Linked DNA regions of Homo sapiens. The protein of the gene in region 2 purifies or fractionates together with the protein of the main gene of each other region. This does not show direct contact. Each region holds a gene or a part of one and is shown on either strand. Other genes may lie near its edges.

Region 1 (4,653 bases), on a different chromosome or scaffold from region 2:
AAAAAAAAGTTCTTTTTTTTTCTTTTTTGAGACAGAGTTTTGCTCTTGTTGCCCAGGCTGGAGTGCAATGGCACGATCTCGGCTCACTGCAACTTCTGCCACCTGGGTTCAAGCAATTCTCCTGCCTCAGCCTCCCCAGTAGCAGGGATTACAGGCATGTGCCACCACGCCCAGCTAATTTTGTATTTTTAGTAGAGACGGGGTTTCACCATGTTGGTCAGGCTGGTCTTGAACTCCTGACCTCAGGTGATCCACCCGCCTCAGCCTCCCAAAGTGCTGGGATTACACGCATGAGCTACTGCACCCAGCTGAAAAAAGTAGTTCTAATTGATAAATTAAAATTCTGCCTGCTGAAGAAAAATAACAAAATAAACATACCACTAGATATTCAAAGAACTTATTAAAGATACAAAATCAGAAATAACAAGAGTAAAACAACCAATGAAAGAGAAGAAATCCTACAACATTCCTTTATAGACTTTTTTTTTTTTTTTTTTTTGAGGCAAAGTCTCACTCTGTCACCCAGGCTGGAGTGCAGTGGTATGATTTTAGCTCACTGCAATCTCTGCCTTCTGGGTTCAAGCAATTCCACCTCAGCCTCCCAAGTAGCTGGGATTACAGGCACCTGCCATCATGCGTGGCTAATTTTTCTATTTTTAGTAGAGACAGGGTTTCACCATGTTGGCCAGGCTGGTCTTGAACCCTTAACCTCAGGTGATCTGCCCACCTTGGCCTCCCAAAGTGCTGGGAATACAGGCATGAGCCACTGTGTCCACCCACTTTACAGACACCTCTACGAATAAATTTGAAAACCTAAAAGCAAGGGACAATTTCCAAACTTGATCCCGTTAGAGATACAAAGTTTAAACAGACTCACTTCCATGAAAGAAATGAAGTTATCAAGAAAGTACTCCACAAAAAGCACCATGCTCCACTAGTTTTGCAGAGCAATCCTACAAAGGATTCAAAGACCAAATAGCCTCAATGCTGTACAAGTTGTTCCAGAGCTTTGGAAACAAAGGAAAATTTCTTAATTCTTTTTATGAAGCAAGTAAAACACAGACACATTAAACAAAACGAGAAAAGAAAGAAAACTGCAACTAATATCACCTTTGAATATTGACGCAAAAGCTTTAAATAAAATATTAGCAAACACAATTCAACACCATGGTGAGAAAATGATACACAAAGAACGTGAGAGACTTACTCCAGGAATGCAAGGTTGGTTCAATCCATTAATATAATACATCATAGCCATATCTCTAAGAAGAAAAATCATGATTATCTCCATAAATGCTGGGAAAAAAAGCCTTCAACAAAACTTAAGACCCATTCCTAATTAAAAAAACTCAAGAAAATAGGAATTCATGCATACTTTCTTAGTATGACAAACAAGTAAACATATATAATTTGCATTAAAGTCAGAATCTTATTTTTAATAGAGAAACACTAAAGGCGTTTGTACTCATATCAGGAATCAGACATTCTCTATAAACTATTTAGCACTGTATTAGTGGTATTTGTGGAGGGAATTTTAAGAAAAATCAATTAGAGGCATCAGAATTGGAAATGAAGGTGTAGAACCACCTTTATTTGCAGGTGATAAGATCATACATCTGGAAAACCTTAATGAATCAATGATCTTTAGAAGGCAGAGAAACAGGTACTCTCAAACATTGCTACTGAGTATCAAAATTGGCATATTCCTTATGGATGGGAATTTGGTAATATCTAACAAAACTACATATGTTTACCTTTTAACTCAGCAATCCCACTTCTAGGAATACCAGACATTAATTCTCTAGTAACACAAAGCTATCATTCACTGTGGCACTGTTTATTTACAAAACATTGAAAACAAGCTAAATGTCCATAGATAGGAGGGTAGCCAAATAAACTATAGCACATCCACACAATGGTGTATTATGCAGAATGAGAATGATCTCTTTGATACAGAATGATTTCCAGGATATATTTTAGTGAAAATCCTGGAAACCTTTCTGAATATATCTTTATGTACATCTTGACTTTTGAAACCATGTCAATGTTTTGCCTAGACAAAATCAACAAGGATGGGAGGAAAACCCTAAAATTGAATACAAACAGAAACAAAGGAATCAAACCATGTTTCAAGTGAATAACATAACCACACTCTAACAGAGAAGAGGAGAATTAACCTAAGTAACTTCTGAATATAGTATTCAAACTAAAGACAAAAAAAACTCTAAGCAAGTGCTGAGCTCTAATTAGTAAGATTGTTTTTTTCAAAGGTATGGCTTTGCAATTCTGAACTACTTTCTAAGCATTACAGGGTTTAACACATAAGAAAATATATTGTGAATAAAATGGAAGTCAAGAGTTACAAATTTGGAAAGGGAAAATAAATCCTCTGTGGTATGGAACTGTAACTGGAAGTATAAATAGAGACCCACACCCACACACACTCTTATCTAGATATCCATGCACATATATACACATACATGTTCATATATCTACATTCACAAAAAATCATACACTCATGTTCATTGTTTTTTCATCTAAGCAATCTTAGCCTTACGACTCATATAATTAGACCTGAAGAAATGCAATTTCCAAATTTCTATATCTAAATTTAGAATATATTGGCTATGCCATCTATAGTGTAGGAAAGTGTTACCATAGGAACATCTATTAGAAAAGATGGCTTTTAAACAGAATAGCCAGGCTAATATTTGAAGAGAAAAAATTTACTCATATATGTGACTGGATCACGAAAACAGGAAAAATATAATATTAATCCTAGTAAATATTTAAATGTACCCATCTCAGATTATTTTCATGTTAGTAAGAGTAATCATATTATCTCTTATAAAAGTTGCAAAGATGCAAATGTTACCTGGTATTTCACAATGAAATGTATTAAAAACCACTGTACCTTACAGTAAAATCATACGAGCAAGAGGCCAGCACAGAAGCATGAAATGGTGAAAACTACAAAAAAAAAAAGAAAAAAAAAACCCTTTTTGAAGTCAGCTGTGATTATAACACTGCTTTCTATGATCATTCCATAAACATTATAATAAATTTAAGTTGAGTCAGAGCTGTCACTTAAAATTATGCTTTTTCAAAGCATATATGCTATAATTTGAGGCAAAAATCTTCTGGCCTTATAAGTATCCATCTTCAGGAAAAATATTTTTACATTCTCCAAAGAAAATTATCCCTCAAGCTTTTTAGAACTTATTTAGAATAAAATATTCCCAAAATGTTGCTATTCTGGAAAAATTAAATACAATTTCATATTGGCTATCCAAAAATGATTCTTACAGGCCAGATGCAGCAGCTCACACCTGTAATCCCAGCACCTTGGGAGGCTCAGGAGGGCAGATCACCTCAGGTCAGGAGCTCGAGACCAGCCTGGCCAACATGGTGAAACCCCGCCTGTACTAAAAATACAAAAGTTAGATGGGCATGGTGGCACATATGCCTATAATCTCAGCTTCTGGGGAAGCTGAAGCAGGTGAATTGCTTTAACCCAGAAGGTGGAGGTTGCAGTGAGCCGAGATCATGCCACTGCACTCCAGCCCCGGCGACAGAGAGAGACTCTGGCTCAAAAAAAGCAAAAGCAAACAAAGTAATAAACAAAAATGATTCTTACAAATATAAGGGATTTAAGTATATAAGAGTACAAATATATAATTATATAATTTACCAATTTTACAAATATATGATTGCTATAATCACGTTATCAAAATAAACATTTAAATGTTAAATAAAAACACCCTTAAGTTATTTTTACGTTATTTGTATATTACAGCTAATGGAAAATTATATCAAGGGTAAAAAGCAAGTTTAAAGACAAGTAACGTCTTCTAGATGAGTAATAATGTACTTAATAAGTTGACCTTTGCAATTACATTTCTTCAGTGTTTGTCTTATCGCACTTTAATAGTTAAATACACATATATAACTACATTTGACCAGCACTTAGTTTGCAAAGTACTTTCACTACATTACCTTATTTCATTCTCATAATCACTCTAAAATATACATAGAGCATATTTTTCAACTGCTAAAACTTGTCCAATTAAACAAATTTATTAAAAAATAAAACAGAGCACTGTGTCTCCTATGTTGCATTGCAGCCAGAGAAACTTAAAATATTAACTTAACTAAAAATTTAGAATTTTTGGCCAGGCACAGTGACTCAGCCTGTAATCCCAGCACTGTGGAAGGCTAAGGCAGGCAGATCACTTGAGGTCAGGAGTTCAAGACCAGCCTGGCCAACACTGTGAAACCCTGTCTCCACTAAAAATACAAAAAAATTAGCCGGGCATGGTGGTGCACACCTGTAGTCCCAGCTACTCAGTAGGCTGAGGCAGGAGAACAGCTTGAACCCAGAAGGCAGAGGTTGCAGTGAGCTGAGATCGTGTCTGGGTGACAGGGCAAGACTCCATCTCAAAAAAAAAGAAAAAAAAATTTAGAATTTTTTAAATAGTAGGAATAACATAATTACCTTATTAAAATAATCAATAAGGTACTTTTTTATCCTTAACGTAAAAAAACAAAAGGATGAAATTGGGAGATGTCACTTAATAAGATGTTTTCCACAGTCATTTAGCAGAACCTGCCTAAATATAAAAGCCAGGAAACCAACCTAAGTCATCTTATAAC
Region 2 (3,502 bases):
TATGGACATGGCCCCATCCTTTGTGATCTTTGCTTGTGTGATCTTTGTTTGGCTCCTGCTTTGTGAGTGCTGGGCCCCCATCTCAACACTGGGCTGTGGTGTTTTCTGGGACTGATTGTCTAGGTGTCTCACCACATGCTGGGAATAGCAGTGCTGTGAGCCCCTCAGGGATGGGTCCTCCTGAGCTGTTCCCCTCCCCTCACCCCTCCCCGTCTCCCCAGGCCATCTGCTCTATGTGGCTCTGAGCCCTGGGCAGCACCGGCTCGGGGGCACAGCTCTGGCCCAGTGCTTCTCCCAGCTTGGGGAACACCCTCCAGACCTGGACCTTCCTGAGAACTTGGTGCGGGCCTTCAGCATCACTCAGGGGCTGCTGAAAGGTGAGTGAAGACCCCTGGGGAGATAGCGCACAGGGTGCCAGGCGTGCAGCAGGCGTTCACCATCTGAGCAGTGGGGCAAAAGGGACTCCAATGGACGATGTACCCCAGATCCCCTGACATTCTGACACACACTCTTGATGGACTGACTCCGGAAGGTGGGGTGGGGCTGTCAGGTTTGGGTCCCGAGGTTGCTGAGCTTTCTTCTCCTTCCTCCAGACCGCCTCCTCTGCTCAGGCCACGATGTCAGTGACGGAGGCCTCGTCACATGCCTGCTGGAGATGGCCTTTGCTGGAAATTGCGGGCTACAGGTGGATGTGCCTGTCCCCAGGGTTGATGGTAAGGAACCTGGGGTCTAGTCTCAGGCCCGGGCTGCCTTCTCTACCCTGCAGACCCCATTTCCAATATATTAAAGAGTGGAGTGCCCTCCAGTCCCCTTTCCCTGAGTCTTCCCTGACTAGCTTTTCTGTGCTGTCTCTCTGACAGCTGAACTGGATGGAACTGGCTGACACCCACCATGTTCCTGACTGCACCCCTCTGAGACTTCCCATCCCTGAGATGTCCATGATGAAACATCCTCAGTCCTGCCGTCCTAGCCCTCATCCTCCCTGATCCCTACCCTACTCTCTGGCTGCATCCCTCTGACCCTCACCCTGGCCCTTCCTGCATTTCCCTGATCCCGCCCCAACTCCCTTGGCCCTTCTTGCATCCCCCTGACTCCCCACATTGCTCTCCCAGTCCTGTCTGTGCTGTTCGCTGAGGAGCCAGGCCTCGTGCTGGAGGTGCAGGAGCCAGACCTGGCCCAGGTGCTGAAGCGTTACCGGGATGCTGGCCTCCATTGCCTGGAGCTGGGCCACACAGGCGAGGCCGGGCCCCACGCCATGGTGAGGAAGTGAGGGAGAGAGCGGTGTGCAGTGGGCAGTCAGAGTGGGGTGGCCGCGGTCCATCCCTCTCCCACTGTGGAGGGGGCCATCCTTTCTCCTAGCCCGTGGGAGATTTGTTCCTCTTCCTAGGTCCGGGTGTCAGTGAACGGGGCTGTGGTTCTGGAGGAGCCTGTTGGGGAGCTGCGAGCCCTCTGGGAGGAGACGAGTTTCCAGCTGGACCGGCTACAGGCAGAGCCTCGCTGTGTGGCAGAGGAGGAACGGGGCCTGAGGGAGCGGATGGGGCCCAGCTATTGCCTGCCCCCCACCTTTCCCAAAGCCTCCGTGCCCCGTGAGCCTGGTGAGGGAGTGTGTGCAGAGGCTCCGCGTCCTGGGGGCACTGAGCCTGGATGCCTGGGCCTGCCCTCAGAAAGGTGTCTGGGGAGTTGGGGTGGGGAAGTGACTTTCTGGCCCAAAGACACTTATTCTCCCCCAAGGTGGTCCCAGCCCCCGAGTCGCCATCTTGCGAGAGGAGGGCAGTAATGGAGACCGGGAGATGGCCGATGCCTTCCACTTAGCTGGGTTTGAGGTGAGCAGGGTAGGGGGCAGCTGGGGGTGATTGTCCAGCCTCAGCTGCGTGTCCTCCCACCCACACTCCCCCTCCCCACCTTCGCAGGTATGGGACGTGACCATGCAGGACCTCTGCTCTGGGGCAATTGGGCTGGACACTTTCCGTGGCGTGGCCTTCGTGGGCGGCTTCAGCTATGCAGATGTCCTGGGCTCTGCCAAAGGTCAGTGTGCAGGCTTCTGCCCACTCCCTTCCCCCACATTCCTGAAGAGGTGCCTTTAGCCCCATCTTCCTGGGCTGGGGATTGGCCTCTCACTCCACCGAGCTACGAGAGAGTGGGCCCATTCGTTCTGGGCCACATGCCAACAGAAGGCTGGTAGTAAATTTTTAATTTTTTCATTGAAAAAAAGTATATATATACACATATGTAATTAAAATATATATTATTAAATATATATTATTTATATATATTATTTATATATTATTAAAATGTATATTATTTATATATTATTAAAATATATATTATTTATATATATTATTTATATATTATTAAAATATATTATTTATATATATTATTTATATATTATTAAAATATGTATATTTTTAAATATATATATATATATATATGTATTTTTTGAGACGGAGTTTCACCCTTGTTGCCCAGGCTGGAGTGCAATGGCGCAATCTTGGCTCACCGCAACCTCCACCTCCTGGGTTCAAGCGATTTTCCTGCCTCATCCTCCCAAGTAGCTGGGATTACAGGCATGCAAAAATACAAAAATTAGCCAGGCGTGCTGGCGGGCGCCTGTAATCCCAGCTACTTGGGAGGCTGAGGCAGGAGAATCGCTTGAACCCAGGAGGCAGAGGTTGTAGTGAGCCGAGATCATGCCACTGTACTCCAGCCTGGGTGACAGAATGAGATTCCATCTCAAAAAAAAAAAAAAAAGAAAGAAGGAAAGGAAGGAAGGAGGGAGGGAGGGAAAAGGAAGAAAGAAAAAAGAAAAGAAACAGAGCAGTTATGCCCCTTCATTCCCAATTCCCTTTTTTGAGGTCCTCCATGTCTCACCCTGACTTCCCTATTCCCTGCTAGGGTGGGCAGCTGCTGTGACCTTTCATCCCAGGGCTGGGGCTGAGCTGAGGCGCTTCCGGAAGCGGCCAGACACCTTCAGCCTGGGCGTGTGTAATGGCTGTCAACTGCTGGCTCTGCTCGGCTGGGTGGGAGGCGACCCCAATGAGGATGCTGCAGAGATGGGCCCTGACTCCCAGCCAGCCCGGCCAGGCCTTCTGCTACGCCACAACCTGTCTGGGCGCTACGAGTCTCGCTGGGCCAGCGTGCGTGTGGGGCCTGGGCCAGCCCTGATGCTGCGAGGGATGGAGGGCGCCGTGCTGCCCGTGTGGAGTGCGCACGGGGAAGGTCAGGCCCAAGGAAGGCTGGGGGAGGGCCCGAGGGTTGGGGGCAAGGGTGGGCATGAAGGACCTTGGCTCTCACTTCCCTCCTCCTTCCATCCCAGGTTACGTAGCATTTTCTTCTCCGGAACTCCAAGCTCAGATTGAGGCCAGGGGCTTGGCTCCACTGCACTGGGCTGATGATGACGGGAACCCCACAGAGCAGTACCCTCTGAATCCCAATGGGTCCCCAGGGGGCGTGGCTGGCATCTGCTCCTGTGATGGCCGCCACCTGGCTGTCATGCCTCACCCTG
Region 3 (4,653 bases), on a different chromosome or scaffold from region 2:
GTCAATTTTCCCAACACAGGAACTATAACTCATTTTGAGGATTTTTTTCAGTGCATTTCACAGCAAAAATGAACAAGGGAATCATTAAAATTGTTGTACACAAACCAACTCTTTTTCTTATAATTTACAATTTGTTGAAAAAATTATTGTTTTGCTGTTTTCATCCTACTAACCTCTTTAACAGAACACAATTTATCAGAGCACAAAGCTTAAACTTCTTATGATGATGCAACAGACACAGCCACCTACAATGGCTGATAAACAACAGGTATGTTACACACACTGATTGGAAGACCATATCAGAAAAAACAGAGTAAGGCACCACTCTTGGGAAATTAAGGTAGCTTGCAGTAACAAGTGTTGAGCACCATAATAAGTAGGTGCTCAATAAATACATGAATGAATGATGAAAGCCATAATTAGCTCTATTCTTTTAATTGCCAGCAATTCTTCAACCTCAACAAAATACTTATTTAAAAAAAGATTTGTACCTGAATACAACTTCCTGATCTTTTTTTCCTGATACCTTTTCATTTCGTTGTTTCTTTAGCATTTAAATTTCCTCAAAAAAAAAAAAAATAAATAAAACCATACCTTACATGCGCGTTCAGTTACACATATAAGTTTTGAATTACTGACAAATATGAATAGAATCATTTATTTTAATTTTTAACAGAGGTAAAATAAAGCATACTTATCCAAAGGGATAACACATAATACTGGATATTAACCTAAAGGTGAAAAGAAAGAAGGAAAAAAGTAACAGTTTTATTTTTTAATATTTGCTATTTTCTTTAATGCCTTAGTTCTGGAGAAAGGCTAAAATCTCATCATATTGACATTAACACATTTTTAAAAAGTGTCTCTCAAGTGTAATATTTAATAAAACTAGGTACTGAAAAATGTTCTGAAATTTTTCAAGTCAATGTTGTTTTCAAGTATATTAAAATGCTCAGAAGAAAAAATTCTCCATGGTTATAATTCTGATCAATCTATAAATGTACTTTTTAAAAGAGAGTTCCAACAGAGGTGGATAATAGGTAAGTTCCTCAGACACAGGCATACAGTCTTTTTGAAGAAATAGAATGCCTTGTTACCACAACCTGGTTGATTTTTTTTTTTAAACACTGATTTCAGGCACAATGGCTGAATCCACTTCTGGGTCATCTTTCTCCTCCTCTTGGTTGGTTTACAAGAGTAGTGAATACTTCAGTTATGGACAGAAAGAAAGACACAAACTCTGAAACGGAGACTTCACTTTTCACTACAAAGAAATCAAAGTCACTGAGTTCTCATTGTTGTGTGTATCTGCTGCCCCTGTGCAAAAATAGGGGATTCAAACTTAACTTTAGGAGCAAGAACTGGATAAAAGATTCATCTACTGATTCAGGTAACAAGTTTTAAGATGGTATTGCTCACATCACATGAACAGGTTGGTAAAAGGTCCACTGTGTTTCTTTACCACTTTGGTCTTGCTGCAGTATTATGGTGCCCTAGTAGGTACATTCAGGTTTAGCTAGTTTCAGTCTGCGCAATCAGGAAGCAGGTCACTCAGTGCAATGACTCCATTCTGGGAGGATTTAGGGTAAACAGAGAAGAACCTCATTTGGTCGAGTTTTAGATAGTATGTGTCACTCTGCTGGTTGTGTTGTTGGAATTATTTTCCAAAGTGGTTTATGATAAACCCAGCCATCTCCCTGAAACAAATAAAAAGATAAAGAATCATCCCTCTAATATTATCAAAATCAGTAACCAAAACTAGAAGCAACACCTTCACTGAAATGGAATTCTATTTTCACATTCAAAAACAAGTTTTTGTGAAGGAATAAAGTCTTTGTGATTAAGACATCAAACGATGCCTGTGGTTTAGCTAGGATTTAGGTGAGAAGACATGGTATGGGAGGATCTAGTTTGTGACCCATGAACATTTAATTTTGCAAGAACCATTTGTAGCAATTTTGCCAATTTCGCCAAGATGCTACAGATTGAGCCTCACTCACAGAGTTATGGGCAGCAGGTGGAGTACAGAGAAATGATCGGGAAGGTACTAACTGTTCTCCCTGTCTCCACTGGCACCCCAGAACTCATTTTTTTTCTTTCCTTTTTTTTTTCCCCCAAGACGGAGTCTTGCTCTGTCAGCCAGGCTGGAGTGCAGTGGCACAATCTTGGCTCACTGCAACCTCCGCCTCCCTGGTTTAAGCAATTCTCCTGTCTCAGCCTCCCAAGTAGCTGGGATTACAGGCACGTGCCATACCCGGCTAATTTTTGTATTTTTAGTAGAGATGGGGGTTTCACCATGTTGGCCAGGCTGGTCTGAAACTCCTGACCTCATGATCCGCCCGCCTCGGCCTCCCAAAGTGCTGGGATTACAGACGTGAGCCACCGCGCCAGGCCCCCCAGCTCATTTTTCTTTTTTTTTTTTTTGGAGACAGAGTTTCACTCTTGTTGCCCAGGCTGGAGTGCAATGGCGCAATCTTGGCTCACTGCAACCTCCGCCTCCTGGGTTCAAGCAATTCTCCTGTCTCAGCCTCCCGAGTAGCTGGGATTACAGGCATGTACCACCACACCTGGCTAATGTTGTATTTTTAGTAGAGACTGGGTTTCTCCATGTTGGTCAGGCTGGTCTCGAACTCCTGACCTCAGGTGATCCGCCTGCCTCGGCCTCGCAAAGTACTGGGATTACAGGCATGAGCCACCGAGCCCGGCCACCCCCTAGCTCATTTTTAATGATATATAGATGTTCTCACTTAGAAACTCTTCTTTCTTAGAATCTGTTCTTGGTATATCTGCCTTTTTTTTGAGACAGAGTCTTGCTATAGGTTACCCAGGCTGGTCTCAAAAACAGTTGGTATTTATATACAGCCATACTACTTTTAAAAATAAAGATGTATAAGTGATAGCAATTCAACAAAGCCTAGTAAGCTAAAGTTCTCAGCCAAGTAGATACATTTTTATCTTGAACACATGTACAGCATACCTCTTTAATAAAATATTTGGTTTTCCAAGGTGTGCCTGTTTCAGTACGATGCCTTTCTTCAGTCCTCTGACGTTCTTCCAGGGTATGCTTATGCTCTGTGGCCTTATCAATTTCAGATTCTCTCAGCGAGTCTGTCACATTTTTCCACAATCGCCTGAAATCCAAAAACCACACATTTTACAAGCATTCTTTAAAAGAGATAATTAAATAGAATCAATACCCTCAAAATTACAATAATTTTATAAAATAACGTTTCCTAAATCACATCTACAATGTCATGCTTATGAATTCCAAGAATAACGATACTGTGCTGCTGATGGTTATGTCCAGGATGCTGCTCCTTCTGCTTCTTTTTAAATTAAAAATAATTTGTATTTTTCCAGGTTATAAAAGCAGGATTTTTTGTTTTTAGAAAACTTAGAAATTAACGAGTAAAAAGAGAAGTAAATTTTCAAAGTTGAAATGTAAGCAAGACTAATTGTGCTTCTGGACATGATGAAATAATGGGGAACACATTTATTTTCCTGCCTTCATCAACCAGGAAACCAGGCAACATATAATACAATAGTGGTTTTCAGATACTGAGCAAAAGGCAGTGCAGGGCAGTGATCCTTGAGAAAGGAAACAAATGAGGGGAGTCCTATGAGTGCTCTAACTCGCTGTCCAGAGTGTTTCTAGGCCACGCACAGGGAGAGGGAAGCTTAACAAATCTCAAGCAAAAAAAAAAAAAAACAAAAAAAAACTGCCACAACACTTCTTTAGGGAAAGAACTGTTTGTTGAACAAATGGTGCTGGGACAACTGGATATACATGTGAAAAAAATGTAGTAAGTTAAACATAAAACTACCATAAACCCAGCAATTCCACTCCTGGGTATTTACCCAAGAAAAATGAAAATAAATGTCCATACAAAGACTTGTAGGAGAATGTTCACAGCAGTATTATGGATAGGCAAAATGTGATATATCCATACAGTGCAATACTATTCAGCAATAAAAAGCAATGAACCACTGATACATGCAATTAATACTTCATGGATGAACCTCAAAAACGTTATACTAAGGAAATAAGCCAGGCATAAGAGATCACACATTGTATGATTTATATGAAATATCCAGAAAAGGCAAATTTATAGAGACAGAAAGTTAGTGGTTCTCTGGGCTGGGGGTAATGGGGATTAACTGTAAATGAACAAGAGAGATCTTACGGTAGGATGAAAATATTCTAAAACTTATTTATGGTAATGACTGTACTACTCGAGAAAGTTACTAAACATCTGTTTTTTCTTTCTTTCTTCCTTTCTTTCCTCCCCCCTTCCTTCTCTTCCTCCCCTTCCCTCCCTCCCTTCTCTCTCCCTCCCTCCCTCTTTCTCTTCTGTTCTCGTCTCTTCTCTTTTTTCTTTTTTTGAGACAGGGTCTCACTGTCACCATCTCAGCTCACTGCAACCTCTGCCTCCCGGACTCAAGCAATTCTCCTGCCTCACTTTCTTGAGTAGCTGGGACTACAGGCGTGCACCACCATGCCCGGCTAATTTTTGTATTTTGAGTACAGACAGGGTTTCATCATGTTGGCCAGGCTGGTCTCGAACTCCTGACCTCAAATGACCCGCCCACCTCGGCCTCCCAAAGTGCTGGATAGTATGCCAAAGGTCTTATAATTTAAAGAATTAAGGCTAC
Region 4 (4,653 bases), on a different chromosome or scaffold from region 2:
GGCTGGAGTGCAATAGCGGGATCTCGGCTCACTACAACCTCCACCTCCTGGGTTCAAGCGATTCTTCTACCTCAGCCTCCCGAGTAGCTGGGATTACAGGCTTGTGCCACCACGCCTGGGTAATTTTTGTATTTTTAGTAGAGACGGGGTTTCGCCATGTTGGCCAGGATGGTCTCAAACTCCTGACCTCAAGTAATCCACCTACCTCGGCCTCCCAAAATGCTGGGACTATAGGCATGAGCCACGGTGCCCAGCCTCCTTTCCATTCAGTTTCTTAACAGTACCTCTTGATAAGCAGATGTGGCTTTTTGATGAAATGCAATTTATCTTTTTTTTCTTTTAAGATTCTTTTTATTATTTCAAATATGTGCCAGTCCCTAGGTAACGAAGATCTGTTTCCTTCTGGATGGCATGCTGTGGTGTTAGTATTTGTTATGTCAAATTAGTTTTTGTGTATGGAGTGAGGCAGTGATCAGTAAGATGCATTTCAAGTAAGATGAAGTTACAGCCAGAATACAATAACTCCCTAGAAGTTGGTGGAACCACCTTCCAATTTTTATTTTATTTTATTATTTTATTTTATTTTATTTTATTTTATTTTTTTGAGACAGAGTCTCGCTCTGTCACCCAGGCCACAATGCAGTGGCACTATCTTGGCTTACTGCAGCCTCCACCTCCTGGGTTCAAGAGATTCTTGTGCCTCAGCCTCCCAAGTAGCTGGGAGTATAGGAACCCACCACCATGCCCAGCTAATTCTTTTGTATTTGTATTAGAGACGGGGTTTCACCATTTTGGCCAGGCTGGTCTCGAACTCCTGACCTGAGGTGATCTGCCTGTCTCAGCCTCCCAAAATGCTGGGATTAAAGGCGGGAGCCACCGCGCCTGGCCACCACCCACTAATTCTGACTGCAGCAGAACGACGGTGGTTAAGCAAGACCCTGGAATCCTTTCCCCTGCCTTCCTTCAGGACCATCTTGCCCTGACTTAAGCTGACTGCAGCCCTTTGCTTTATTTGAATGTTTTACTGAAAGTTATATTCTCTTCTATTTTAGTAATAAGCAGATTAAAAGGCATAATTAGTTTGTCTGCTCTGATATGTCAGCTAAAAGCAAATATTTTTGTTTTTAGTAATCAGACTTTGAGTTTGCTCTGTCTAGGGAAGGGCTTGACTCTAGCAGTGTTGAAAGCCTGGGAGGTGGGCTTTTTGGAAACTGTAACTGATATAACATAAAATGTATTTGGTCTTTAAGCTAAAACTTTTGGGAATTCCTGAGTAACAGGTGTCTTTTTATTCATAATGACCCTCTTTGATAACGTGTTTATGCTAATAAGATAGCTTGGAGTGGGGTCCATAGATAGTCTAAAAACTGGGGGGGAAGGAGCTGAAGATCATGCTCTGTAAGATTCGTTTTTCTTTTTTTTAATATTTAAAGAGATGGGGTCTCTATGTTGCCCAGGCGGGTCTTGAACTGGCTAATTTTTATATTTTTAGTACAGACCGAGTTTTGCCATGTTGGCCAGGCTGGTCTCGAACTCCTAACTTCAGGTGATCCACCCGTCTCGGCCTCCCAAAGTGCTGGGATTACAGGTGTAAGCCACCGCACCCAGCCTTATTTTGTATTTTTGTAGAGATGGAGTCTGGCAAACATATAATTACCAATTTATTGCTCTTCTGTTTGAAAGAAGTGTTTTGACTGCAGTAAAGTTCTAGCCTATTGTGAAAATCAGGCTAGCCCATTTCTCAGATGGCTGCCTGGCTAGACACCCTCTCTGAGATGGCTGGAATGATTAGTAGAAAGGAGTGGGCAGGAAGTAGGTGGAGAGTGGGGATTCTAGATCAGGGGTCCTATGGCCTGTTAAGAACGGGCCATTACAGCAGGAGGTGAGTGGCGGGCAAGCAAGCATTACCACCTGAGCTCCGTCTCCCGTCAGATCAGTGGCGGCATTAGATTCTCCTGGAAGTGCAAATCCTACTGTGAACTGTGCATGCAAGGGATCTAGGTTACGAGCTCCTTGTGAGAATCTAATGCCTGATGATCTGAGATGGAACAGTTTCATCCCAAAACCATTCCCCCTAACTCCTCCCCCATTTTTTCATGGAAAAATTGTCTTCCATGAAACGGGTTCCTGGTGCCAGGAAGGTTGGGTACCACTATTGTAGATAATTTCCTTCCAAATTACTGGCATCTGGGTTAATTCTGGCAGTATTGTCAGTACAACATGGACGAGGACTTGATAAAGTGATTTCTTTCCACCCACCCAATATCTTGTTCTTCTCCAGGCAGTCAGTTGTGGGAAACTTATCAGGTTTGAGGGAGTTACTTGCTTTCATCAGGTCACCTTGTCCCCTACCTCAGGGAGCCCCACAGCTCTGAGTGCTTTGGCTGTGGGAGAATTCCATCCTCTGGGTGTGCAAGTGGGTGTGTATGGGTGGAGGAATCTGACCAAATAAGGCTTTACCTTAGCTAGAAAATCACCCTGGCTTCAGGAAACCCACCAGTGCATGCCAGCTTTGCAGTTCTTTTGTTGTTGTTGTTTTTGGGACAGAGTCTCGCTCTGTCACCCAGGCTGGAGTGCATTTGCTCAATCTTGGCATTTGCAACCTCCACTTCCCAGGTACAAGTGATTCTCGTGCCTCAGTCTGCCAAGTAGCTGGAATTACAGGTGCCCGCCACCATGCCTGGCTAATTTTTGCATTTTTTAGTTTGAGACGGGGTTTCACCAATGTTGGCCAGGCTGATCTTGAACTCCTGACCTCAAGTCATCCACCCGCCTCAGCCTCCCAAAGTGCTGGGATTACAGGCATGAGGCACAGTGCCCGGCCTCAGTTTCTGCAGTTCTTGCTTTTTAACAGTTGTTTACCCTACAAAAATGGAAAATATACTTGGAAATATTTGTGGACATAGGGCTTTTAAGTATATGCACTTAGAGATAGATACAGACAACCTATGGATTAGGAAATAGGACACTATCCATGTCTGAAATTTAAATAAGGTCCAAATTAGCTTAGATCCAATATGATTCCCCAATGCATATATGAACAATACGTGAACATTGTTGTGTGCACAACTATGGAAAGGTCTTAATCCGCACAGTGACTCTGAGATAAGACTCACTGAAGGAAATACAGCAGCAAACCCAGGAGATGTGAGTTCCAATCTTCATTTGTAACTCACTCCAAATGAGATCCTAGCAATGAAGTAATTTTTTTTTGTTTCCCACTAAAAACAAATAAACAAAAACCTTAGTTTTTCTATGCTACAGAATTAGGATGACAAATGAACTTATCTTGCAGTCACTATAAGAACACTGACAGTTTCAGAGATAGTATTAAAAATCAACTAAACACTTATAATTATTGTGAAAGCATTTATCTATCAAAGAAGGTTAGCCTGCAGCCAGTTGGAAAGTTTTTTTTGTTGTTTTTTTGGTTTGTTTGTTTGTTTGTTTGTTTGTTTGTTTGATAGAGACAGGGTCTCACTATGTTGCCAGGCTCTCCTGGGCTCAAGCAATCCTCCCGCCTCAGCCTCCCAAAATGCTGGGATTACAGGCATGAGCCACCGTGTCCGGCTGCCAGGTGGAAAGAACAATTTAAGGAGATGGTTAAAAGTGGAAAAGCCAATAACATGGTAATAATTGAAATAAAAGAAGAAAGAAAAAATTGAACTCTGATACAAAGAGACTACAACTGTGTAATAGGTTGCATAAAAAGAAATTTTGCAAACATGTAATAGGTTGCAAGGCAGATAAAAACAAAAATCATGAGAAGCCACTCCTGCCAAATTCATTCATAGTCAAAATACAAGTTAACTTTTGTGGGAGATTAAAAAAAAGAAAACTAAGAGCATTTTAAAATGAAGTAGGATTAGGTATGCTAGCAAGAGAGTTTTTTTCAAAAGGCTGTGGCACCCCACGTACCCCAAAGAAGGGGAGCCAGCAGTAAACAATGTGGCCTTATGTGGAATACATGGCAATGGGCTCCAAATACAGATTCAGGCTGGGCGCGGTGGCTCACATGTGTAATCCTGGCACTTTGGGAGGCCAAGGCAAGTGGATCACCTGAGGTCAGGAGTTCAACACCAGCCTGGCCAACATGGTGAAATCCCGTCTCTACTAAAAATACAAAAAACTAGCCAGGCATGGTGGCAGGCACCTGTAATCTCAACTACTTGGGAGGCTGAAGCAGGAGAATTGCTTGAACCTGGGAGGCAGAGGTTGTAGTGAGCTGAAATTGCACCACTGGACTCCAGCCTGGGCAATAGAGTGAGACTCTGTCTCAAAAAAAATAGAGATTGAGAGAAGCTGGAGGCCAAACAGTAGAGAACTGAAGCATCCCTTGGTGGGACAGCTGTGGCTTTTTTCATAATATGAAAAATAATTATTTCCATTATTTTTTAAATTTGTTTTTTTTTATTATATTTTATTTTATTGTATATTTTTTGAGAACAGGGTCTTGCTCCGTTGCCCGGCTGGAGTGCAGTGGCACCATCTCAGCTCATTGCAACCTCCGCCTTCAGGTCTTCAGTGATCCTCCCACCTCAGCCTCCCAGGTAGCTGGGATTACAGGTGCGCATCACCATGCCTGGCTAACTTTGTATTTTTGTAGAGACAGGGTTTCACCGTGTCGCTCAGGCTAGTCTCGAACACCTGAGC
Region 5 (4,653 bases), on a different chromosome or scaffold from region 2:
GGGGTTTGGAGTATGAATAATCCCATCACCCAGGTAGTGTGCATGGTACCCAGTGGGTAGTTTTTCAGCCCTTGCCTCCCTCCATTTGTCCCCCTCTAGTAGTCCCCAGTATCTGTTGTTCCCATCTTTATGTCCATATGTACACCCAGTGCTTAGCTTCCGCTTATAAATGAGAACATGTGGTATTTGGATTTCTTGTTTCTATGTTAATTTGCTTAGGATAGTGGCCTCCAGCTCCATCCATGTTGCTGCAAAGGACATGATTTCATTCTTTTTTGTGGGTGCATAGTATTCCATGGTATATATGTGTCACATTTTCTTTATCCAATCCACTATTGATAGGCACCTGGGTTGTTTTCATGTCTTTGTTATTGTGAATAGTGCTGCGATGAAGATCCAAGAGCATGTGCCTTTTTGGTAGCATGATTTATTTTTCTCTGGAAATATACCCAGTAATGGGATGGCTGGGTCAAATGGTAGTTCTGTTTTAAGTTCGTCGAGAAGTCTCCAAATTGCGTTCCACAGTGTCTGAACTAATTTATATTTCCACTAACAGTGTAAAAACATTCTCTTTTCTCCACAGCCTTACAGCATCTGTTTTTTGTTTGTTTGTTTTTACTTTTTAATAATAGCCATTCTGACTGGTGTGAAATGGTGTCTCATTGTGGTTTGATTTGCAGTCTCATCACATTAAGAGGATCATACGTCATGATCAAGTGGGATTTATCCCTGGGATGCAAGAATGGTTGAACATACACAAATCAATAAATGTGATACACCACGTTAACAGAATGAAGAACAAAAATCATACGATCATCTCAGTTGATGCAGAAAAAGCATTTGACAAAATTCAACATACTTTCATTTTTAAAACTCTCAACAAATTTGGTGTAGAATGAATATGCCTAAACATAGTAAAGGTCCTATATGACAAGCCCATAGCTAACATCATACTTAATGGTGAAAATCTGAAAAGTTTATCTCAGATTGAGAAAAAAAACAAGGATGCCCACTCTTGCCACTGCTATTTAAGATAGTACTAGAAGTCCTAGCAGAGCAAATAGACAAGAAAAAGAAATTAAAAAGCATTCAAATTGGAGAGTAAAATGATCTGTTTAAAGATAGCATGGTCTTATACATAGAAAGCCTTAAAGACTCCTTGAAAAAAAAGACAAAAACTATTAGTCCTAATAAATGAATTCAGTAAAGTTTCAGGATACAAAATCAGCATAGAAAAATCAGAAGCATTTCTATACACTAACAGCAAACTTTCTGAGGATGTAATCAAGAAAACAATCCTATTTACAGTAGCTGCAAAAATATAAAATATTTAGGAATAGATTTAACCAAGAAGGTGAAAGATCTCTATGCTGAAAACTGTAAGACATTGATGAAAGAATTTGAAAAATTAACAGATATCCCATATTCATAAATTGGAAGAATTAATATTGTTACAATGTTCATAGTACTGAAAGTGATCTACAGATTCAATGTAATCCCTATCAAAATTCCAGTGAAACTTTTCACAGAAATAGCAAAACAATTCTAAAATTTGTATGGAACCACAAAAGATCTGAATAGCCAGAATAATCTTGAGCAAGAAGAACAAGGCCAGGGGCATCACACTACATGCTTCAAGTCATGTTACAAAGCTGTAGTGATCAAAACAGTATGGTACTGGCATAAAAGCAGACACATAGATCAATGGAACAGAATAGAGAGGCCAGAAATAAACCCAAGAATTTACAGTCAATTGATCTTCAAAAAAAAAAAAAAAAAAAAAAGCCAAGGAAACACAATGGGGACAGGACAATCTCTTCAATAAACACTGTTGTTAAAACTAGATACCCACATACTGAAGAATGACATTGGATCCTTATTCATCCCATATACAAAAATCAGCTCAAAATGGGTCAGAGATTTAAACAAAAGATTTGAATTTGAAAAGCATAAGATGCGCGCAAGAAAATACTGGAGAGAAGCTCCATAAGATTGGTGTTGGCAATGATTTTTTGTTTATGGCACCAAAAGCACAGGCAACAAAAGCAAAAATAAACAAATGGGACTTCATCAAATTAATAAGTTTCTCTGTAGCAAAGGAAACAACAAAATGAAAAGGCAGCTTACATAATGAGGGGAAATATTTGCAAGCCGTATATCCGATTAGGGGTTAACACGTAAAAATAATCAGGAACTCATACAACTCAGTAGCTAAAATAAAATAAAAATACAGGTTGAGGATCCCTAATTCAAAATCTGAAATGCTTCAAAATCTGAAACTTTTTGAATGCTGACATGACACTCAAAGGAAATGCACATTGCAGCATTTGGATTTTTGGTTTCAGATTTTTGGATTAGGGATGTTAAACCAGTTAGTATCATGCATGTATTCCAAAATCTGAATAATTTCAAAATCTGAAACACTTCTGGTCTAAAGCATTTTGCATAAGGGATACTCAATCTGTATTTACCTAGATGTAAATAATAAATGAATATATTAGAATAGGTTATTGTCTCAGTCCATTTTGTGCTGCTATGACAGAATACTGCAGACTGGGTAATATATAAAGAACAGAAATTTATTCTATCAGAGTTCTGGAGTCTGGTAACTACAAGATCAAAGTGCCTGCAGGTTTGGTCTTTGGTTTCAAGATGAGGCCTAGTTGCTGTGTCCTCCAAAGAGGAGAAACCTTGTGCCCTCACACAACAGAAAAGCAAAAGAGAAAATCCACTCTGGTAAGCTCTTTTTATAATGCCATTAATCTATTTATGAGGGCAGAGCCATCATAACCTAAACACCTCCCATTACCTTCCAGTACTGTTGTGTTTAAGTTTCAACATGAGTTTTGGAGGGGACAAAAACATTCAAACCATATAGTTATAAAGACTATTTCAGTTATAAAAGCCTGTGATTCCTTGAAACTGAAGTTTGAAATATACTCCATATCATTGGTATCTTAAATATAACCTCTATATAACTTGTTTTTCTTTAGTGTTCAAATGGTAATGTATACTTGAGGTAGCAACTTAAGGGTTTGAACCAACTTTAGCTTTGTCTGAATAAATGACCTAAAAAAACATTTCTCAAGCTGGCTAAGATATGGATGCTGGATTCAAATTGCAGGTGAAATAATTCTCTCAGTGCTTCTATTTATATAGCTTTTGTAACTAGAAGCATTTCAGGAGTTAAAACCAAGGACTAGGTTAGTGATAAATGGAAGTGGTTAAATTGAGCTCTTAGCTATGATTGGCTGTACAGTTGACCGTTGAATAACATGGATTTGAACAGCGCAGTTCCACTTCCATGTGGATTTTTTTTTTTCAATAAAAGCTATACCAAGTGAGTTGCCTCTCCTGCCTCCCCTTTTACCTCCTCCACCTCTGCCACACCTGAGACAGCTAGATGAACCCCTCCTCTTCTCAGCCTACTCAAGAGTGACTATAATAAGGATGAAGACCTTTATGATGACCCACTTCCCATGTAATGAACAGTAAATACATTTTCTCTTCCTTCCATTTTCTTTTCTCTAGCTTACCTTATTGTAACAATATGGTATTTGATGCATATGGTATATGATGCATATAACATACATAATATGTGTTAATTGACTGTTTATGTTATTGGTAAGGCTTCTGGTCAGCATTAGGCTATTAAGGTTTTAGGGAGTTAAAAGTTATGTGTGGATTTTTGACTGAGTGAGAGGGGGATTGGTACCCCTAGTGCCTGCATTGTTCAAGGGTCAACAGTACTTGTTAATTCCAAAGTCCTTTTTGTTCACAAAATGACTTTAGGTACTTATTGGTACTGAAATATATTTATTAATATCTGGGCTACATCTTTGTATTTAGCAGATTAGTAGACATCTCTACTAATTAAACTCATTGAGTTCAAAATAAAACTCATTTTATAATTTTTAATAATGATAATTAGAGGGGTGCTGGTAAATGTTTAACTAAACGCCTTTCTCCAAAATAGCCCTGATTTGTGATGGCTGTCAATTTCCTGTGGTGTAAATACTCCCCCCATGGCTCATTTCAAGCCGCTAAAATAGTGTCACTGAATGCAGAGTTGAGAAGAGATAAGAGGTAGCACATCATTATATACCATATCCACCATACAGACATAATCTCATTAGCACATATAATAGTAAAATGTAAAGTAAGTAGTGATGGTTTTGAGTGTTAATTCTTCTGTTTTAGTATAACTCATTTATGTATATATAATTATGTTTTAATAACTGCCTCATAAAAATCCTGAAAATTTAATAATTATATCTCATGGGGTAGTATAGGGGGCTGTATACCATTGAGTTCATAATTACCATTTATTAAGAATGATTGATGTGAGTTATGCTACACTTTACATATTTTTAAAACTGAATTTTAATCCTTTCAACAATTCTATGAAGTAGGTGACACTGTCTCCATTTTACTAAATCAAAGAATTAAATAATTTATCCAAGGGGACAACTAACACTCCAACATCCTGATTTAGAGCAATGGTTTTCAAACTTCAGCTTGCATAGAATCACTTGAAGAGCTTGTTTTTAAAAAATACTGGGCCCACCTTCAGAAGTTCTGGTTCAATAGATGTGGGGTGGGCTGAGAATTTGCATTGTCAAGACCTTCCCAGGTGATGCCACACTGGGAACA
Region 6 (3,500 bases), on a different chromosome or scaffold from region 2:
ATAACTCCATTGACCTGAGAACCACTCCCCAACCCCACACAGTGGCCACAGCAAGCCCTGCCCAAGGAAAGTCTGACTCAGACCCACCTAACTCTGCCCTAACCTGATGGTTTTTCTCTACCTGCCCTGGTAGCCAAAGACAAAAGACATAAACTCTTGGGAGCTCTATGGCCCTGCCCATTACCTAAGAAACCAAAATACTTATCCTGGCCTACATAGACAAGCTTGTATCCCCCCTATACTACTACAGCTGATGCTTTCTTGAAAGCACCACCTCCTCGCTGAAGGCCAACCAACTCAAGCCACTACAGAAACTCGTAACAGAACAACCCTGCTCCAAAAAGGGAAAAACAACAGCTAATTCCACCGCCTGCAACATCCTGGCTAACCAGAGATCCTGAGTCTGTCCACATGGCAACTTCACTGCTAGCATAAACCAGCATTCAAGAAAACCAGTGCACTAAACAAAAATACAACCAGGGACTCCCACAGAGTCCACTTCACTCTCCTGCCACCTCCACCGAAGCAGGTGCTGGTATCCACAGCTCGGGGACCTAAAGACAGATCACATCACAGGACTTTCTGCAGACATTCCCCAATACCAGCCTGGAGCCCAGTAGCCGCACTGGGTGGCTAACCCCAGAAGGGCATAACCACTGCAGTCCAGCTCTCAAGAATCCTCATCCTTAGGGGAAGGCGAAGAACACCCCATCAAGGGATCACCCCATTGGACAAAAGAATCTGAACAGCAGCCCTTGGGTTCCAGATCTTTCCAATGAAACAGTCTACTCAAATGAGAAGGAACTAGAAAACAAATTCTGGTAATACGACAAAACGAGGTTCTACAGCACCTCCCAAAGATCACACTAGCTCTCCAGTAACGGAGCCAAACCAAGAAGAAATCTCTGAATTGCCAGATAAAGAATTCAGAAGGTTGATTATTAAGCTACTCAAGGAGGTACCAGAGAAAGGTGAAAACCAACTTAAAGAAAATTTAAAAGGACTCCAGAGAAACAGATATCATAAAGAAAAGATAATCAAACTTCTGGAAATGAAAGACACATTTTAGAAATGCAAAATACACTGGGAAATTTCAACAACAGATTAGAACGAGTAGAAAAAAAGAACTTCAGAGCTCGAAGACAAGGCTTTCAAATTAACCTAATCCAAGAAAGACAAAGAAAAAAAGAATCAAAAAAATGAACAAAGCCTCCAAGAAATTTGGGATTATGTTAAACAATCAAACATAAGAATAACTGATGTTCCTGAGGAAGGAGAGGAGAGAAATCAAAAAGTTTGGAAAGCTTACTTGAGGGAATAATTGAGGAAAACTTTCCTGGTATTGCTGGAAATCTAGACATCCAAATAAAAATGCTTGAAGAACACTCAGGAAATTCATTGCAAAAAGATCACCACCTAGGCATATAGTCATCAGGTCATCTAAAGTAAGACAAAGGAAAGAATCTTGAAAGCTGCCAGGCAAAAGCATTAGGTAACCTATAAAAGAAAGCCTATCAAATTAACAGCAGATTTCTCAGCAGAAGCCCTACAAGCCAGAAGGGATTGGGGTCTTATCTTTAGCCTCCTTAAACAAATTAATTATCAGCCAAGAATTTTGTATCCAGCAAAACTAAGCTTCATAAATAAGGAAGAGATACAGTCATTTTCAGACAAACAAATGCTGAGAGAATTCGCCACTACCAAGCCAGTCCTACAAGAAATGCTAAAATGAGTTCTAAATCTTGATACAAAACTCACAATACACCTAAATAGAACCTCCTTAAAGCATAAATTTCACAGGACCTATGAAACAATATCACAGTGCAAAAAAACAAGGTATCCAGGAGACAACTACCATGATGAATAAAATAATACCTCATATCTCAATATTAACGCTGAATGTAAACTGCCTAAATGCTCTACTTAAAAGGTACACAATGGGCCAGGCTTGGTGGGCGGCCAAGGCAGGCAGATCACCTGAGGTCAGGAGTTTGAGACCAGCCTGGCCAATATGGTGAAACCCCGTCTCTACTAAAACCACAAAAAAATTAGCCAGTCATGGTGGCGGGCACCTGTAATCCCAGCTACTCAGGAGGGTGAGGCAGGAGAATTGCCTGAACCTGAGAGGTGAAGGTTGCAGTGAGCCAAGAACATGCCATTGCACTCCAGCCTGGGCAACAAGAGTGAAACTCTGTCTCAAAAAAATAAAAAGATACACAATGGCAGAATGCATAAAAATCCACCAACCATGTATCTGTTGTCTTCAAGAGACTCACCTAACACATAAGGATTCACATAAACTTACTGTAAAGGGGTGGGAAAAGATACTCCACACAAACAGAAACCAAAAGCAAGCAGGAGTAGCTATTCTTCTATGAGACAAAATAGACTTTAAAGCAACAAGTTAGAAAAGACAAAGAGGAACATTATATAATGATACAAGGATTAGTCCAACAGGAAAATATCACAATTCTAAATATATATGCACCTAATACTAAAGCTCGCAAATTTATAAAACTGTTACTACTAGACCTAAGAAATGAGATAGATGGCAATACAATAATAGTGGGAGACTTAAGTACTCCACTGACAGCACTAGACAGGTCATCAAGACAGAAAGTCAACAAAGAAACAATGAAATTAAACTATACTCTGGAGCAAATGGACTTAACAGATATCTATAGAACTTTCCGCCTAAGAAGTACAGAATATATATTCTTTTCTTCAGCCTGGAACATTCTCCAACATGACAGGCTACAAAACAAGTCTCAATAAATTTTAAAAAATCTAAATTATATCAAGTACTCTCACAGATCACAGTGGAATAAAATTGGAAATCAACTCCAAAAGGAACCCTCAAAACTATACAAATACATGGAAATTAAATAATCTGCTCCTGAATGATCTCTGGGTCAACAATGAAATCAAGATGGAAATTTAAAAATTATTTGAACTGAATAATAATAGTGATACAACCTATCAAAACCTCTGGGATACAGCAAAAGCAGTGCTAAGAGGAAAGCTCATAGCCTTAAATGCCTAAACCAAAAACTCTGAAAGAGTACAGATAATCTGAGGTTACACTTCAAGGAACTAGAGAAACAAGAACAAACCACACTCAAACCCAACAGAAGAAAAGAAATAACTAAGATAAGAGCAGAACTAAATGAAATTGAAACAAAAAATACAAAAAAGATAAATGAAACAAAAACCTGGTTCTTTGAAAAGATAAAATCGATAGACCATTAGTGAGATTAACCAAGAAAAGAAGAGAGAAGATCCAAATAAGCTCAATTACAAATGAAATGGGAGATACTGCAACCAATACCACAGAAATACAAAAGATCATTCAAGGCTACTATGAACACCTGTATGTGCATGAACTAGAAAATCTGGAAATATACAAGCCTCTTAGATTAAAGCAGGAAGAAACAGAAACTATGAACAAATCAATAACAAGCAGCGACACTGAAACAGTAATTAAAAAAACTGCCAACAAA
Region 7 (4,653 bases), on a different chromosome or scaffold from region 2:
TCTGTGTGGGGCCAGCCGTGAGTTGATGTGACATGGGCAACGTTCCCCTCCCCAGCCCCACTGATGGCAGGTGCTGTGAGGAGCTGAGTAGAGGAGCTCCTACCCCAGGGCGAGGGGTTGTCTGCTGGACTTTGAAGGGTGCAGCAGTGAGAGGTCCGTGTCGCTGTAGTCCTGGCACCGAGCTCACCTGAGGAGCATCAGAAGTGGAGCAGGGCCCCTGAAGAGCGCAAGCACACAAGGCACCCACACCATAGCAGTTGCCCTCCTGGAAGCCCTGTGGTGGCTTCCTAACTGCCTGGCTCTGGGTGAGGGCGTTTGACCTGGTGGCATGGCCCCCATTCTGTAATGGTTTGTAGAAATGGACCCATCCATGGTTGCAGTGCCTGATTGCTTCGAAGAGCATGTGTTTTTTTTTTTTTTTTTTCGTGACATGGAGTCTTGCTGTCACCCAGGCTGGAGTTTGGTGGCGCAATCTTGGCTCACTGCAACCTCCGTCTCCTGGATTCAAGTGATTCTCCTGCCTTAGCCTCCTGAGTAGCTGGGATTCCAGGTGCCTGCCACCACATCCAGCTAATTTTTGTTTTTTCTTTTTTTTGAGATGGAGTCTTGCTCTTTCACCAGGCTGGAGTACAGTGGCGCAATCTTGGCTCACTGCAATCTCCACCTGCGAGGTTCAAGCAATTCCCCTGCCTCAGCCTCCCGAGTAGCTGGGACTACAGGCGCGCACCACCACATCCAGCTAATTTTTTGTATTTTAGTAGAAACGGGGTCTCACCATGTTGGCCAGGATGGTCTCAATCTCCTGACCTCGTGATCCACCCACCTCAACCTCCCAAAGTGCTAGGATTACAGGCATGAGCCACCGCGCCTGGCCTGTATTTTTAGTAGAGACGGGGTTTCACCATGTTTGCCAGGCTGGTCTCGAACTCCTGACCTCAGGTGATCCACCCTCCTCAGCCTCCCAAAGTGCTGGGGTTACAGGCATGAGCCACCACGCCCAGACTATTAGTTTTTACCATGTTTTATTGAAATATATGTCATGGGCCGGCCACGGTGGCTCACGCCTGTAATGCCAGCACTTTGGGAGGCCACGGCAGGTGGATCACAAGGTCAGGAGTTTGAGGCCAGCCTGGCCAACATGGCGAAACCCCATCTCTAGTAAAAATACAAAAATTAGCCGGGCGTGGTGGCAGGTGCCTGGAGTCCCAGCTACTCAGGAGGCTGAGGCAGGAGAATGGCTTGAACCCAGGAGGTGGAGATTTCAGTGAGCCAAGATCACGCCACTGCACTCCAGCCTGGCCGACAGAGTGAGACTCCGTCTCAAAAAAAAAAAGAAATACATGTCATGAAGAACACAGATGGTGCAGGTCTAGCTTGTTGATGACTTTTCACAAACTCAGCACAGCCACAGAAACTGCTCCTAGATCAAGAAACAGAATATGCTCTGCACCCAGGAAGCCCCCTCACCTGGGGCTCTCACAGTCACTGGCCCTCAAAGGGTCATTTCTGACCCACTCCCCACCCTCCGCTCCATTGTTGGTTTTCTCGCCGTCTTTTGTTGGTGCGCAAATCTTAACTGTACAATTGGCTGTACACCCTCATCACAATAAAGGCCATCGTCATCTCCCCAGAAAGTTCCTGGGTACCCATTCCCAGCCAATCTGCCCTGCTCCAGGCAACCGCTGATCTGATTTCTGTCACAATGGGTTGCATCTCTGATGCTGAGATTTCCCAGTGTTGCTGAGTAGTATCCGTTGTATGAATGCACAGTTTGCCGGGTCACATGTTAATTCAAGTGTTTGACTTGTTTCCAGTTTGGGGCCGCTATGAACCAAGGCTGCTGTGACCATTCGTGTGCAGGTCTTTGTGTGGACTTGCACTTTCATTTCTCTTGGGGTGGAACGGCCAGGTCACAGGATAGGTGTGTGTTTCACTTGATCAGAGGGAGCACCCGCACCACCTCACAGCTCAACTTCAGCCATTTTCATTTTCTTGCCTTACTGCACTTTTCTTGTTCCTGATTGCTTAAAGGGATGATTAATATTTCAGCATTTCCTATAAGTGTGATATTTGTAGTATTTGTAAGGATGATGGTTTGGGGGTTTTTTTGTTCTTTGTTTTTTGGTGGTGGTTTTTTTTTTTGAGACGACGTCTAGCTCTGTTGCTCAGGCTACAGTGGTGTGATCTCGGCTCACTCCAGTCTCTCCCTCCTGGTTCAAGCGATTCTCCTGCCTCAGTCTCCTGAATAGCTGGGATTACAGGCATACACCACCATGTTCAGCTAAGTTTTGTATTTTTAGTAGAAATGGGGTTTCACCATGTTGGTCAGGCTGGTCTCAAACTCCTGACCTCAAGCGATTCCCCGCCTCGGCCTCCCAAAGTGCTGGGATTACAGGCTTGAGCCACCACGCCCAGCCAGAATGGTGTTTTATAGATGCCCTTTATCAAGTTAGTGAAGTTCCCTTGCATTCCCCCTCTGCTAAGAGTTTTAGCGTGAATAGGTGATTTCTGAAACACTTGATCTACATCTGTTGGGTTGAGCAAGATTGCTAGATTTAAAAAATCAAAACATAGCAGTAGGCAGAGAGTTCTTAGAGGTTTTTTTTAATCTCTTAATATGGTGAATTTCAATGATTTTTTTCTGTTAATATCAAACCAACTTTTTATTTACAGATGTATTTATTCTGTAAATAAAAAACCTACCGTTTTTAACATTGCAGGATTTGGTTTGCTGATGTTTTCTTCTTTTTTTTTAAAGAGACAGGGTCAGTGGGTCGTCGTGGCTCACGCCTGTAATCCCAACACTTTGGGAGGCTGAGGCGGGCAGATCACTTGAGCCCAGGAGTTCAAGAGCAGCCTGGACAACATGGGGAAACCCTGTCTCTACAAAAAATACAAAAAATTAGCTGGGTGTGTTGGCATGTACCTGTAGTCCCAGCTACTCCAGAGGCTGAGGTGGGAGGATTGCTTGAGCCCAGAGGCAGAGGTTGCAGTGAACTGAGATCGTGCCACTGCACTCCAGCCTAGGTGACAGAGTGAGACCATGTCTTTAAAAAAAAAAAAAAAAAAAAACCTCCTGATTTCAAGCAATCTTCCTCCCACCTTGGTCTCCCAAAGTGCTGGGGTGTGTGAGTTGTGCCCGGCCTGCTGATATTTCGTGTGGGATTTCTGCATCTGCATGTGTGTGTGAATGAGGCGTATGGGTTTTCCCATGTGCCTTTCTCATCAGGTTTCCGTACCAAGGCTCTGTAGGCCCCATAAGGTGGCTTGGGAAGTGTTCCCCTTTCTTCCTTCTGCAGGAAGAGTTTGCTTCAGGCTGGAATTCTCTTGTGCTTGCATTTTGGTAGAACCCACTGGCAACACTCTCTATGCCAGGGGGTTGTTTCTGTAGGAAGATTTGTGGCCACTGTCCCCTCTCAGGTCCATTGCTCTGTTTTTTGTTTGTTTGAGACGGAGTTTCGCTTTTGTAGCCCAGGCTGGAGTGCAGTGGCTTGATCTTGGCTCACTGCAACCTCCGCCTCCCAGGTTCAAGCGATTCTCCTGCCTCAGCCTCCTGAGTAGCTGGGATTACAGGCATGGGCCACCATGCCCAGCCAATTTTGTATTTTTAGTAGAAACGGTTTCTCCATGTTGGTCAGGCTGGTCTTGAACTCCCGAACTCAGGTAATCCATCCGCCTCGGCCTTCCAAAGTGCTGGGATTATAGGCTTGAGCCACCGCGTCCAGCTGTTTAGTTGTTTTTTTGTTTTTTGTTTTTTGAGACGGAGTTTCACTCTTGTCGCCCAGGCTGGGGTGCAATGGTGCAATCTTGGCTCACTGCAACCTCCATCTCCCGGGTTCAAGTGATTCTCCTACCTCAGCCTTCCGAGTAGCTGGGACTACAGACACCCGCCACCACGCCTGGCTAATTTTTTGTATTTTTGGTAGAGGCGGGGTTTCACCGTGTCAGCCAGGATGGTCTCGATCTCCTGACCTCTTGATCCGCCTGCCTCGGCCTCTCAAAGTGCTGGGATTACAGGAGTAAGCCACTGTGCCCGGCCTATGCCCTTTTAAAAAAGCAACCATGCCAGGGGGTTGTCTGTTTCTATTCGTCTTTTTCAAACACCAATTTCCAGCTTTGTTCATCTTTTCTTTGGGTTAGCTTTTAATTTTATTAATTTTACTTGTCATTATTTCCTATTTTCTTCCTGGTAATTTGGCTTGCAGTTCTATCTTTTTCTCACTTTTTTTTTGGAGATGAAGTCTCACTCTTGTCACCCAGGCTGGAGTGCAGTGGCACGATCTCGGCTCACTGCAACCTCTGCCTCCCGGATTCAAGTGATTCTCCTGCCTCAGCCTCCTGAGTAACTGGGATTACAGGTGCCTGCCACCACACCTGGCTAATTTTTGTATTTTTAATAGAGATGGGGTTTTGCCACATTGGCTGGTCTTGAACTCCTGACTTCAGGTGATCTGCCTGCCTCAGCCTCCCAAAGTGCTGGGATTACAGGTGTGAGCCACCGCATCTGGCCCTTTTTCTCACTTCTTAAGTGGAATGCTTAGCTCCTTATTTTTGAACCACTCTTTTTTGCTAATGTAAGCACTTGAGGTCACGTCTCACAAATGTGGCTACATGGTACTTCTGTCGTCCCTTGGTTCTACTGAATTGAATTTT

What was found.
Region 1: the proteins of PFAS (region 2) and PEX7 purify together in Homo sapiens (co-immunoprecipitation; one large-scale study listed by IntAct). This does not show direct contact.
Region 3: the proteins of PFAS (region 2) and OSBPL11 purify together in Homo sapiens (co-immunoprecipitation; one large-scale study listed by IntAct). This does not show direct contact.
Region 4: the proteins of PFAS (region 2) and SLC19A3 fractionate together in Homo sapiens (co-fractionation; one large-scale study listed by BioGRID). This does not show direct contact.
Region 5: the proteins of PFAS (region 2) and RAP1GDS1 fractionate together in Homo sapiens (co-fractionation; one large-scale study listed by BioGRID). This does not show direct contact.
Region 6: the proteins of PFAS (region 2) and RPIA fractionate together in Homo sapiens (co-fractionation; one large-scale study listed by BioGRID). This does not show direct contact.
Region 7: the proteins of PFAS (region 2) and G6PD fractionate together in Homo sapiens (co-fractionation; one large-scale study listed by BioGRID). This does not show direct contact.

The regions. Positions count from the first base shown.
Region 1 is NC_000006.12:136,870,515-136,875,167, reverse strand, and holds part of PEX7 (peroxisomal biogenesis factor 7), read right to left. Parts: intron 2,971-4,653; coding exon 2,915-2,970; intron 1-2,914. UniProt on the Homo sapiens protein: Receptor required for the peroxisomal import of proteins containing a C-terminal PTS2-type peroxisomal targeting signal. Specifically binds to cargo proteins containing a PTS2 peroxisomal targeting signal in the cytosol.
Region 2 is NC_000017.11:8,265,641-8,269,142, forward strand, and holds part of PFAS (phosphoribosylformylglycinamidine synthase), read left to right. Parts: intron 1-221; coding exon 222-377; intron 378-593; coding exon 594-713; intron 714-860; coding exon of another isoform or gene 861-883; exon of another isoform or gene 884-1,112; coding exon 1,113-1,258; coding exon of another isoform or gene 1,259-1,270; exon of another isoform or gene 1,271-1,387; coding exon 1,388-1,595; intron 1,596-1,731; coding exon 1,732-1,823; intron 1,824-1,910; coding exon 1,911-2,025; intron 2,026-2,892; coding exon 2,893-3,216; intron 3,217-3,313; coding exon 3,314-3,502. UniProt on the Homo sapiens protein: Phosphoribosylformylglycinamidine synthase involved in the purines biosynthetic pathway. Catalyzes the ATP-dependent conversion of formylglycinamide ribonucleotide (FGAR) and glutamine to yield formylglycinamidine ribonucleotide (FGAM) and glutamate.
Region 3 is NC_000003.12:125,528,884-125,533,536, forward strand, and holds part of OSBPL11 (oxysterol-binding protein-related protein 11), read right to left. Parts: intron 3,132-4,653; coding exon 2,978-3,131; intron 1,698-2,977; coding exon 1,632-1,697; 3' UTR 1-1,631. UniProt on the Homo sapiens protein: Plays a role in regulating ADIPOQ and FABP4 levels in differentiating adipocytes and is also involved in regulation of adipocyte triglyceride storage. Weakly binds 25-hydroxycholesterol. Interacts with OSBPL9 to function as lipid transfer proteins.
Region 4 is NC_000002.12:227,707,371-227,712,023, reverse strand, and holds part of SLC19A3 (thiamine transporter 2), read left to right. Parts: intron 1-4,653. UniProt on the Homo sapiens protein: Mediates high affinity thiamine uptake, probably via a proton anti-port mechanism. Has no folate transport activity. Mediates H(+)-dependent pyridoxine transport.
Region 5 is NC_000004.12:98,267,412-98,272,064, forward strand, and holds part of RAP1GDS1 (rap1 GTPase-GDP dissociation stimulator 1), read left to right. Parts: intron 1-4,653. UniProt on the Homo sapiens protein: Acts as a GEF (guanine nucleotide exchange factor) for the Rho family of small GTP-binding proteins (G proteins) that stimulates the dissociation of GDP to enable subsequent binding of GTP.
Region 6 is NC_000002.12:88,743,673-88,747,172, reverse strand, and holds part of RPIA (ribose-5-phosphate isomerase), read right to left. Parts: intron 1-3,500. UniProt on the Homo sapiens protein: Catalyzes the reversible conversion of ribose-5-phosphate to ribulose 5-phosphate and participates in the first step of the non-oxidative branch of the pentose phosphate pathway.
Region 7 is NC_000023.11:154,536,410-154,541,062, reverse strand, and holds part of G6PD (glucose-6-phosphate 1-dehydrogenase), read left to right. Parts: intron 1-4,653. UniProt on the Homo sapiens protein: Catalyzes the rate-limiting step of the oxidative pentose-phosphate pathway, which represents a route for the dissimilation of carbohydrates besides glycolysis.